Linked DNA regions of Homo sapiens. The protein of the gene in region 3 interacts with the protein of the main gene of each other region in a biochemical or structural test. Each region holds a gene or a part of one and is shown on either strand. Other genes may lie near its edges. The genes, in order: TLE1, MECP2 and HIPK2.

What was found.
Region 1: the proteins of HIPK2 (region 3) and TLE1 form a complex in vitro, tested with the Homo sapiens proteins (one study listed by IntAct).
Region 2: of the proteins of HIPK2 (region 3) and MECP2, one has a biochemical effect on the other in vitro, tested with the Homo sapiens proteins (one study listed by BioGRID).

Annotation. Positions count from the first base shown.
Region 1 is NC_000009.12:81,588,548-81,592,195, reverse strand, and holds part of TLE1 (transducin-like enhancer protein 1), read left to right. Parts: intron 1-1,143; coding exon 1,144-1,391; intron 1,392-2,085; exon of another isoform or gene 2,086-2,688; intron 2,689-3,648. UniProt on the Homo sapiens protein: Transcriptional corepressor that binds to a number of transcription factors. Inhibits NF-kappa-B-regulated gene expression. Inhibits the transcriptional activation mediated by FOXA2, and by CTNNB1 and TCF family members in Wnt signaling.
Region 2 is NC_000023.11:154,091,203-154,094,850, forward strand, and holds part of MECP2 (methyl-CpG-binding protein 2), read right to left. Parts: exon of another isoform or gene 3,176-3,648; intron 2,348-3,175; exon of another isoform or gene 1,008-2,347; coding exon of another isoform or gene 982-1,007; intron 1-981. UniProt on the Homo sapiens protein: Chromosomal protein that binds to methylated DNA. It can bind specifically to a single methyl-CpG pair. It is not influenced by sequences flanking the methyl-CpGs.
Region 3 is NC_000007.14:139,711,974-139,715,621, forward strand, and holds part of HIPK2 (homeodomain-interacting protein kinase 2), read right to left. Parts: intron 1-3,648.

The DNA.
Region 1 (3,648 bases), on a different chromosome or scaffold from region 3:
TAGTAGAGACGGGGTTTCACCATGTTAGCCAGAATGGTCTCGATCTCCTGACCTTGTGATCCGCCCGCCTTGGCCTTCCAAAGTGCTGGGATTATAGGCGTGAGCCACCGCGCCCGGCCATGTTCCGATTTCTAAACCATAACCCCAGGATTTACAGAGCACATACCACTGGCCTTAAGCAGACTCCGAGCTGCCCTGCCCTGCCCTGCCCTGGTGTGGTGTCTGCCTGCACTCTGCTGTTGCAGATGGTGCCACGTACCCACTGCCTGCCTGGAAAATTGTAAGGATTCCAGAGAAGGTGTTTCCAAAAAGCAGAGTGGCGGTGTTTTGGAAACACAGACTTTTTTTAGAGTAGTTATTAGTGCATTTTTTAAAAAAACCAAATAACTTCAAAATGTCTTCATTCATGAAATTCTTATTTAAATATGGCCCAATATTCTATAGCAGTAGGAGTATCCTTTGTTGAAGTCATGTGCTTAAAGTTTCTTTAATCTTTGAAAGATAATCCATCGTTAAAAGCATGTAAGCAAACTTTAGCCATATCTGCATCTTTCAGGAGTTGATCATATGAGGGCCCCCCACCCACAGCCCCTTCATATGTGTCGGTTTTGATGGAAAGATGCCTGCTTTTATCAGGTTCTTTGGCCTTTGCATTGAGGGGCTTAAGTGTAACAGCAGCCACATGACAACTTGAGAAAGCAGCTCTGGTAAATTCTTAGCAAGAATCCTTCTGACTAATGAGGTAATGTGCTCAGCATAACGAAGACCGAAACATAGAGGATGGGCCTGCAGTTTCCAAGTGGTAAATAATGCAGGGTGATGAGGTAGATTTATAAACTAGCTTGGAAAAGTGGTTTCTTCTCAGGGAACTATGTGTACACCTGTACCTCATACCTAGATAGTTTCAGCTCTGTGATGCAGGACACCAGAAGCAGTTACCTAAGCTCCTGTGAATTTGTTTTGTTTACTATTTTGAAGGAGACAGTTGTACTTGGACCCCAATCTTGACTAGAGAACTCTTGCTCTGTTAGAGTGTCCATGAAACACCACTCTTAACTCAAAAAACCAAGACAGCCATTAGAGAACATGGTGCTATGATTGCTCGGTAATTCATTATAGCAATGAATTATGTTTATTCTACAGAACAGAGACAATTATATCCGTTCCTGTAAATTGCTACCCGATGGCTGCACTCTCATAGTGGGAGGGGAAGCCAGTACTTTGTCCATTTGGGACCTGGCGGCTCCAACCCCGCGCATCAAGGCGGAGCTGACGTCCTCGGCCCCCGCCTGCTACGCCCTGGCCATCAGCCCCGATTCCAAGGTCTGCTTCTCATGCTGCAGCGACGGCAACATCGCTGTGTGGGATCTGCACAACCAGACACTAGTGAGGTGAGCAAAGATGGTCGTCTAAGGAGGGGTTCGCTTCTTTAGCAGCTGGGCCTATCACCTCTGCTTCTCTCTGGCTGCCTGCAGCCCACACAATAAGAGCCTCTTGAATGCCAGGCATGGGGCTAGGTGATGAGGGAACAAAGACAACTGTGTTGCTGCCTTTGGGGGGCTTACAGTCTTATTACTATGCCTGGTGTCACCCGAGACTTTCTATCTCCTTAATGTGCCAATTCTTCAGCCCACATACAGACTCCAAACTTGTTCTAAAAATATTTCTGGCTTTTGCCAAGGGGTGGCCTAATGTGGATTACACGGCAGCACAAAAGGCCCTTGATACTAGATGTTTTGGGCTTTGGCTAGAACTTGGTGCAGACAAGAGCCAACTGATAAAAGATAACAGAAAATCAACAAAGGGACATGAGAAGAGGAGATTCTGTGAATTTTGCCTACAAAATGATTTTAAAGTATCTCAATAATGAAATAGACCTGCCCAGGGGTGGTTCCACCCAGGAGCCCGCAGGGCTCTGCCTGGCCTTCTGGCATCAGCCCTGTCACCTTAGCAGCAGCTGCAGTTCTGGTACCCATGTGTCTCTCCTCAGCTCCCCCGCCAAATGCTCCCTTCAGAAGTCAGTGCTCACACCAGAGCTGTTCTCAAAAAGTCTTTTTAAAGTAAGCATGAATGAAACATGAAAGGTAAAATGAGTACATGTTTTACTCTTGTTTCATCTTTGCTGGGAAGCCGTCCCTGCGGATGGTGCAGTTTGGGGTCTGTGGCTTGTTTGGTAAGTCCCCTCTCATGCTGCACAGAGAAGGGACGGGCTCCAGAAGTCATCATGACAGCTCACTCTCTTCAAACCTCCGCTGTAGAAATCCATGAAGTGTCATTGAGCCGGGCCCGGTCCCTGCGTGTGGGTGACAGTGCGGCAGTTACTTTCCTCTTCTGTTTGCTGGGTAGTGTAGGTGAGCAAAATGGAATGATGGAGCCAGGGCCGAACGCCCTCTCCACCTTTTATCCTAGCAAAAGTTACTTGTTTTTTTCTTTTTTTAAAACTCCATAAGTAGCACTTTCAAAATATCAATTCTAAGCACTTTTCAAATATTCCTCCACTTAGTTCTCATAACGTCTGTCCTGCTATTTGCCCCATTTTATAGAGGAAGTGCCTGAGGCTCAGAGAGGGTAAGTTACTGGCTTCAGGTCACACAGTCAGATGTGGTGGAGCCAAGTTGAGGCCCAGGCATTCTGCTCTCGTCTGTACTCTGAACCCTTGCTCCGTGCCGGCTCCTGGGGAGTAAATACCTGTTGGATAGAATGGGGTAGCGTCTTACAAATCTTTCTCTGGACCACTCACAGGTGGCTAGTGGCTGCTGCATGTAATAGGGCCATGTAAAGCCTATTGAATGTCTTTGTATCCACTGTAACCCAGCACGTTCTGAACAGTCATAGGATGTGCCTGAGAGTAATGCTGGAGTATAGTATATGGACGGAGAGAGGGCAGAGGGATGGGGGAGCAGCTGCCAGGTACTGTATGTCAGCAGAGGAAGGTGTTTTCAGTCAAGGAGGAACAGCGTTTCATGAGTTAGAAAGGTCAAAAGAAGTCAGAGGGTCACTGGATTTCCAGAGCTGTTTGAAGGGAAGGAAAGCAACACTTTCACCAAGTGAAGCAGGGACTGCTCCAGGCCTGGGTGTTCTGTGGGGATGTCTGGGAAGCAAGCGGAAACATTGGAGGTCCAGCTGCACGGCCGCAGGAGAGAGGACTCAACCTGGATCCTAAAGTGCAGAAGTTGGGGATGGCTTGCAGAGAGAAGATTTTAAAAGTGATGGTTCACGTCTTGGCTTAGAATTTAGGGCAGTAGTGGTGCTTTTTCCTTCCCTTGCACTCTTTAAAATCCAAGCTCAGGTTAAAAGTTTGGAGCTCTACAGGAATGATAAGGTGTGGGGATCCTGGAGGAAGAAGCAGCATGGTAACTTTCTTCTCAGTGTTGAAATTCCCACGCAGTTCTTTACTGGATCCCGCCTGCTTCTGAGGGTGGGTCTAGACTTTGCTCGCCTTTTCTGGCTGCCTCCCCCACCACCTTCCTCTCAGCATGCAGAACTGAGTCCACCAGTCACCGTCCCTGCTGGGGCTTACACTGACCTCCCCTCAGCAGCTCTGCTAGTTGCCTTGCACAGCATCTGTGCTCAGCAGATCCCTGTTGGCTGATCGTTTCTGATGGCGATTTTTGAATGAAGCACAAGGTTCTTTAAAGAACAACCTTG
Region 2 (3,648 bases), on a different chromosome or scaffold from region 3:
ACTTAGGGTCTCAGTCGGAATCACAATGGCCGCATAAGTGAAAACTCACATTTTTGCTTAGGGGAAAAAAAATGGGAAAATTCAATTGGAACATTCTGCTTTACCACACAGAAGTTCTGAAATCCACATGTCAAAACATCAAATGCGGAGTGACCACTAATCAAAAAGACAAAACAAAACAACAACAACAACAACAACAACAAACAGCTTGAGATGTTGAGCCTGAAGGTTGAGAAATTAAGGAACCATTCATTTTTACAAAACTAAAGTCCACACAATGGTGCCAAGTAGTTCAAACTGCAGCTGATACAGCACCTGAGTGTCAGACCTAGAATGACTGGGGCCCCCAGGTTTTTACAAAGTACTCATCCTCCTCTAGAGTCCCAAGAACCAGATGTATATCTGGGTACTCTCTTTAGTTACCATGGGAGGAGTGTAGCAAGCACATGACATTAGCCATGGCCCCCGGTGTTCTGAGACAGCTTTCAGGAGGGTGTCCTTCTAGGGAACCAACCACATACCAGTTCCCATATCTGAAAATGCATTACCACTGCTCACTAATGTTGACCACTAAGCCATTTACCCCAAACCAAAGCAAACACATGCTGAAGACCGCTAAGGCAACAGCAGCAGCGCAAAAGGGCTCAGTGCAAGCGCTCTCAGCTCAGCTGACCTGCTTCAAGGTGAACTGAAGTTGCAGATCACCAGTTCCGGCTCTAATCTGACGCCCGCCCCCAGATCACGCTGTGGCGACCAAGTAACCCTACACACACTGACCTTTCAGGGCTCAGGGAAGTGACTTTTTTTTATTATATGGCACAGTTTGGCACAGTTATGTCTTTAGTCTTTGGGGTACTTTTATACTGTCCAAGAGTAGTATATTTTTTTCCTCTTTTCCTTTTTTTTTTTTTTTTAAAAAAAAAAAAAACAGATGGCCAAACCAGGACATATACTAAAAAAAAAAAAAGGAAGGTTACTTACCTGAGCCCTAACATCCCAGCTACCATGGAATCCTGTTGGAGCTGGTCTACAGAAGCAAGGTGTATTCTGGGGAGTCACATGTCACATCAAAGCAGGAACTGGTGAGTCTGTATTTTTATGGAGCCTAAAACAAAGAAAATTGTAAGTTGAAAGCCCCCATTGAGCTGCACGACCTTTTTCCCAGGGCTATTTGGGACATTTTGAAGATAAACACATAGACAAAGTACTAGGCTATTTCCCAGCTTACCTAGCTAGAAACAAAGGATAAGCTGCAAATTACTGGCACGTAACACACAGTGCTAAAATAAAGGAAAGATTCATGCTTGTTAGAATCAACACTATCACAAGCCTTGTCACCTCTAGGGGACACTTCGACACTACAAAAGCATACCATGAGTGGCGATTTCTGGCAAGTATTTCTTCTACCACGGCACACAGAAATTCTCAGGGAAGAATACATGTTCAAGAGAATACGCAACATCAAAATACCATCCCTGAAAGAACACATGGAACCTAGAGGCAGTCTCCCTTCTTTTTCAAGCAGCTGAATGAAGTTGCAATAAGCTGCTGTAACAACATCACATAAAGGGGCTTTAATCCTGAGAGAAAAAATCAGCACCAAGGGAAACCAAGTGCTCTGGGAGACCCAAAGCCATCATCCAAAACATGCAAGTCTATTTCAGGGCAATCAGTTTTAAGCCTCTCAGATCAGTCAATCTCGATGTTCAACAAACTCAGTTATTAGTTTGATAGTTTCTCTTTTTCTTTTGAACACATGTTCAAAAAAGGACTTTTGTCAGTACCTTTTTTGTCATTAAGATAACCATCATTTCCTAGTTAAAGCCTAAACTGCCCCATATGAATTAGCTAATTTCTGATACTATGCTGGCCCAAGAGTAGCACTTTTATAAGCTAAAAACGAAAGCTCAGAGCATACAACTTAGAGACTATTCACACAATTACTCATGTAATCAAACCCAGAAGAAGGGCAACACCAACCAAGTCTTTTACTGGTCTGTTGCTGCTCTACAGCTACCAGGATGGTACCTAAAATTATCTTTTGAGGTTCAGTGAGGCCTCATAATTCCCTTAAACAGTCAAGTCATAGAATACTTTGAAATCCCAGAAGTCAAGTTAATAGTATTACTCGGCTAGCTATATAATAAAAACCAAACTGGTATCCTGGCTAGGAGGCCCTGGAAAAGTCACAACTTCTCAGGGACACAAGTTTTTTTTGTTTGTAAACTGATGGTGCTGGACTAAGAATCCTTCTAGTTCTTAAAGTTTAAGATAATTAACTTAAGATTTCATGTCAAAAAGAAAAGAGCCAGAGGCTGGGTGCGGTGGCTCACGCCTGTAATCCCTGCACTTTGGGAGGCTGAAGCGGGTGGATCACGAGGTCAGGAGTTCAAGACCAGCGTGGCCAAGATGGTGAAACCCCGTCTCGACTAAAAAAAAAAAAAAAAAAAAAAAAAAATACAAAAATTAGCCAGGCGTGGTGGCAGGTGCCTGTAATCCCAGCTACTTGGGAGGCTGAGGCAGAGAACTGCTTGAGCCCGGGAGGCAGAGGTTGCAGTGAGCTGAGATCGTGCCACTGCACTCCAGCATGGGTGACAGAGTGAGACTGTCTCAAAAAAAAAAAAAAAAAAAGAAAGAAAGAAAAGAGAAAATGAGAGCAGTTTATGAAATCTAAAAAAGAAAGTTAATATATATATAAAACACCCCTAGCTCTTGGGCTAGGAAGACAAGTGCATCCTTACTAAGGCTTGGTCCTGTCAACTTCAGAGGCAATAATGAGAGCCCAGACTACAGTGTCTACAGTAACTGCAAAACAGCCACACAGCACAGCGGGAACACATTCACACGCCAGGAGACCCAGCATACATGTGCTTGAAGAAGTTATAAGACTCAGGCTTTATTCTCTAACGAAATGGTCATTCCCCCTTTGATGTGGGGGTGGGGGTGGGGATGCCCTGCCCACCCCCCAATTCCGGCTCCCACTCAGTTATCCCACATACCATACATACCATCAAAGTATTTAAGCAATGGCATGCAAAGCAAGCTTTCGACAGGTTTCTTGCAAGAGAAAGGCAGAAGAGAACAGGTAAAAGCAGAAGAGCACACAGGTAAAAGCAGAAGAGCACAACTTCTACTTAAGCCCAAAGAAGAGGGACCTGTTCACATCTTGTCCTACCCGGAATGATGCACACGCACAGGGGCTTGCCGGGACAGCAGTAGTTTCACTGGAAAGGGCTGGTATGGAGGCACCGAGGACAAGGTCCTTCCATCGCAGCGGTGATAATGCTCTACCCAAGAAAAAAAGATTGCGTCTGCCAGCCACGCAAGACTGGTCTGCAAGGATGTCACCATAGCAGAGGGCAGGGAAAACAAGCAGGTGTCCTGCCACACTCTTTGGGACTGGCCAGTCTAGGAGTGTGCTTTACCCCACGCACTGAAAACACTGGTTACTAGAAATATCAAACATTTCCTGTGATTCTCTCCTCCAAGATAACTCGGGCAGCTTGAGAACAAGCTGCTCTTAGCTAATTAAAAGATTTCTGCTGATATTAACCTTTATAAAAGATTTCAGGTTCCAGGACACGTCATTTATCATGCAGAGTCCCAAGCAGGTACATTAGCAATGGAAACCAGGCTCCAATAAGGAAC
Region 3 (3,648 bases):
CCAGTTCTCTGAGGCAAGTCTCTGTGGTGGTGGGTGTGGACTTTCTCCCAGGGTACTCCCAGGGAGACTCTGTTCCCAGCAACCTCTCCAGGAGATTCCTGTGCACAGTAAAGCCTGAGAACCTGGGCAGCTGACAGTTAATGACATAACTGACCTTCGAATTGGAAGGGAATACCCCTGCTTCAGACTCGAGAAAAAAACTTAAAAAGCAGCCTTTGTTTCCTGAAAAACACACCAGTGGGCTTGCCTCACAGAATACCAACAGCCACTGTGGCCAGGCACATGCCTGAGAGCTGGGGAAAACAGTTGGCTCCGGGGACACCACCTCCTTTTCCAAGTCCCCAAGGCGAGGATAACATATCCTTGTCTCACACCGTTTCTGTGTCACTAGGTGGGGACAATGGTGGGATGAGACACTTAGCCCAGTCCCATGCAAAATGACAGAGGGACACATAAGTACTCTACCTTTTGAAAGTCAGATGTCCTGGGACGATAATGTGCCCAGCTCAGATACAGGGGGCCGAGGGGAGAAAGTCCCCACCCACCACCTGCAGGACAAAGGCCAACCTGCTGGGAGGCTGGATGCACAGCATGCAATGACTCCTCCAGCCCAGGCGGCTCAAACACACAGCCATTCCCTCACGATGCAGATGCAGCTGAAAGCATCTGAAAGCGTCTTCTTTCTGGGACATGGGCCTTAACGATGGACAATTAAAGAGCTTTTCTTGCCCCCTTTCTTTCCTATAAGAGGCAAAGCCACCAGGAAAATCAACTTGATAAACATGGCCTAGAGCTGGCTGTCCCACACAGCTGGGACGAAAAGAGACAGAGCACTAGAGACTGTCCTCGAAAAATCGGATCGATCTATATGGTGGCAAACCACTGCAGGGCTCAGACAAGGCCTGAGGGAGAAACAGAACATTGCACCAACTTAGAAATGAAGCCTCATTTCAGGCAGAAGAGCCGCTGTCTTTCCTGCTGACCGTATTTTTGGAACCAGGGCTGGGCACAGGGAGGCTGACATGAGGGCCTGAAGGTGACCACAGAAAGGAGAAAGAGGCCTTCTTGCTCAGAATTTTAGGCAATGGTGATTTCAGGGGTGAAAAGAGGGTACTATCACAACTAAACGGAGGGTCCTTCAGAGGGATGTGGGGACACAGGGGCCAGATGTGACTGTGCCTGTCACGAAGTGGGGAAAAGAGGGCTCCTGAGGGCCCAGGAACCGCCAGCAAACCAGCCTACCACACCCACCAGAGGCGTCCAAAAGGCCTGATCTCACCCACAGAGGGGGGCAGGAGAGGATCGCTGTGAGTCCAGGTGAAGGAGTCAGCCCTCCCCAACCCTCACAGGCAAACTTTTACTGCTGCCGCAGGCTTCCTGAGCTAGGATCCCCGATTTTGCGACCTGTCTCCTCAGCACTAGGGGCACCAGCACCAGGCAGGAAAGCAAAGAAAAACTCGCAGAGTCCAAGGGGATGGGCAGGGAGGGCTCCAGGAAGCGTCACATGGGCACCAGAAGGCAAGATGACAAGGGGGTCTTAAGAATCCCCAATTCAGCTTACTCGATTCACCAAGTTTCGCTCTAAGGATGTGCTGCCTTTTAAACAGAGTTTGTCGAAGTCTTTTTACAAGTCGCCATGCTAGCTTTCAGTGAATGTTAATAACACTGGTACGTGTTCATGATGCAGCAATTCAGATGAACTACATAAAAGCCCTAGCAGCCAAGTCAGGGGCTGTTCACCCTGAATTCAGGCCAAGAACTAGAAAGAGCCAGCCTTTGGCATGCTGAATTTACCAACCTAAATACGAAGTGGCACAGCAGCCTCCCAGAGCCAGCACAGCACCAGCTAGCCCCCAATGGGGCTGGTACCCGGGACGGCCACCAGAGCTGGCTTTCAGAGGCCCAGGCACTCTCTACAGAGAATATGTGCTGTCGGTACCGGGCACCCAACCCTCCAGATTCACTCAACCATTGCCCATCCTTCTCCTCTGGAGACAAGGAGAGGCTTCTTGTCTTCCTTGGAGGCTCCTGCCCTGGGCTTACTTCTCCCTGCCATTGGCTCTGGGGCCAGCGGGGCACAGAGTGGATGGCCTGGTCAGGACGAGGGAGTGGAGAGCAAGTGGAGGGGCAGCAGTAGACCCGTCTGTCCGCACGGGGCCTGGTGGTGAAAGCACAGGCCTGTGGAGACCTTTCTGCGCATAGGAAATGAGCGGGAAAGGAATCCTCAGGGCAGGGCAGAGAAGAGGCTCGCAGAGAGCTGTTCTAACTCAGGAAATGCCTCCTAAAGGGAAGAGGGAAGAGACAGAAACAGCATGGGTGAAGAGGCCTCGAAACCTCCTGTGTGAGTCAGGATTAGGATGAAAGGAGACGGGGTGGAAGGTGGGAGGGCATCTGGGGATCCGAACGGAGGGGCTGTTGCTCTCCCAGGGAAGGAGGGCCTGGTGCCCAGCAGGCTGAGGGAGGGGCTGGGAGGAGACTTGCAACAGCTCTGCCTGCAGCCAGGATGGGGGCCCGGACAGGGAGCAAGAAGGGGAAGCTGGCCCAGGTCAGCCCCAGGAATGGGTGACAGGTCAGCTGTGTCGACAAGGCCCTGGGGCATGTTCCAGCCTTCTCTCTGTGGCCTTGAAAGGCGCATGGAGAAAGCACACGGGCAAGCGAGCGTGCTTGCTTGCAAGCAGGATGGCCTCCGGGGACCCCGGTCTTCCTGCCTACGTGGCACGCTCTTAAATGTGCATCCGTCCCATCTTCTCATGGGAGTTTCAGTTTTGTTTCTTGTGACCTCTATCTCCACTGCACTGTTCGGCACCACCCCAAACACACCCCCAGGCTGGTTCCACAGAGCAGGGTCTTGCTTTCCATCCCTGCCGCCTCCCCGCTGTGCACCCGCCATGGCCAGCCACGGAGTGACACACCTAAGCCATGTTACAGCCATGTTACCTCCCAGCTGCCCACGAGGCTGGTGAGAGGATTTCTCCCACTTCATGGGTTAGGAAATGAAGGCATGGAGAAATCAGGCCATTAGGAGAGGAGGGACCAGGTTCACTCTGGCCTTTCCTGACTCCAAAGCCAGCACTCCGATCTCAGCTCCATGTCGGCAGCGGTTCCAATCCTGACTGCATACAGGGGTCCCTGAAAAGCTTCCAGATACCCCAGGATGGCAAGGGCCCTGTCTATATCCCTATACCTAGCACTGCGGCTGGCACATATTAAAAGTGAAATCAAAGCTTGTTGAATGACTGCATGTGTGAGTCCATGACTGAACACACTTCCCTGCCACGGACACTATCATTCCTCCCTCATCCTGACCCAAAGCCTGAAGTCACCTTACCACAGGAGCCACCCAGCTGGCCCCAGACTAGTCTCTCCCTTCCTCCAGCCCTTCTGCACGTGGATAGACAAGGAACCTTCTCGGAACATCCCTTTCAACCCGTTACCTTATGTTGTTCAAGGTTTCCAGGGCTTGCTCTGGGTTTGAGGATACAGTTGCAATTCCTTGATCTGATATTTAAGACCCCCAGTGACCTGGTTCCAACCAGGCTTTCACTCACATCTCCCACCACTCACAAACTGTTCTGGCCAGGCGGGTGTCCTTCTTGTCTCCTGTAAATTCCCACTAGTGTGACTGCGGACTGTGGATGGCACATCCCT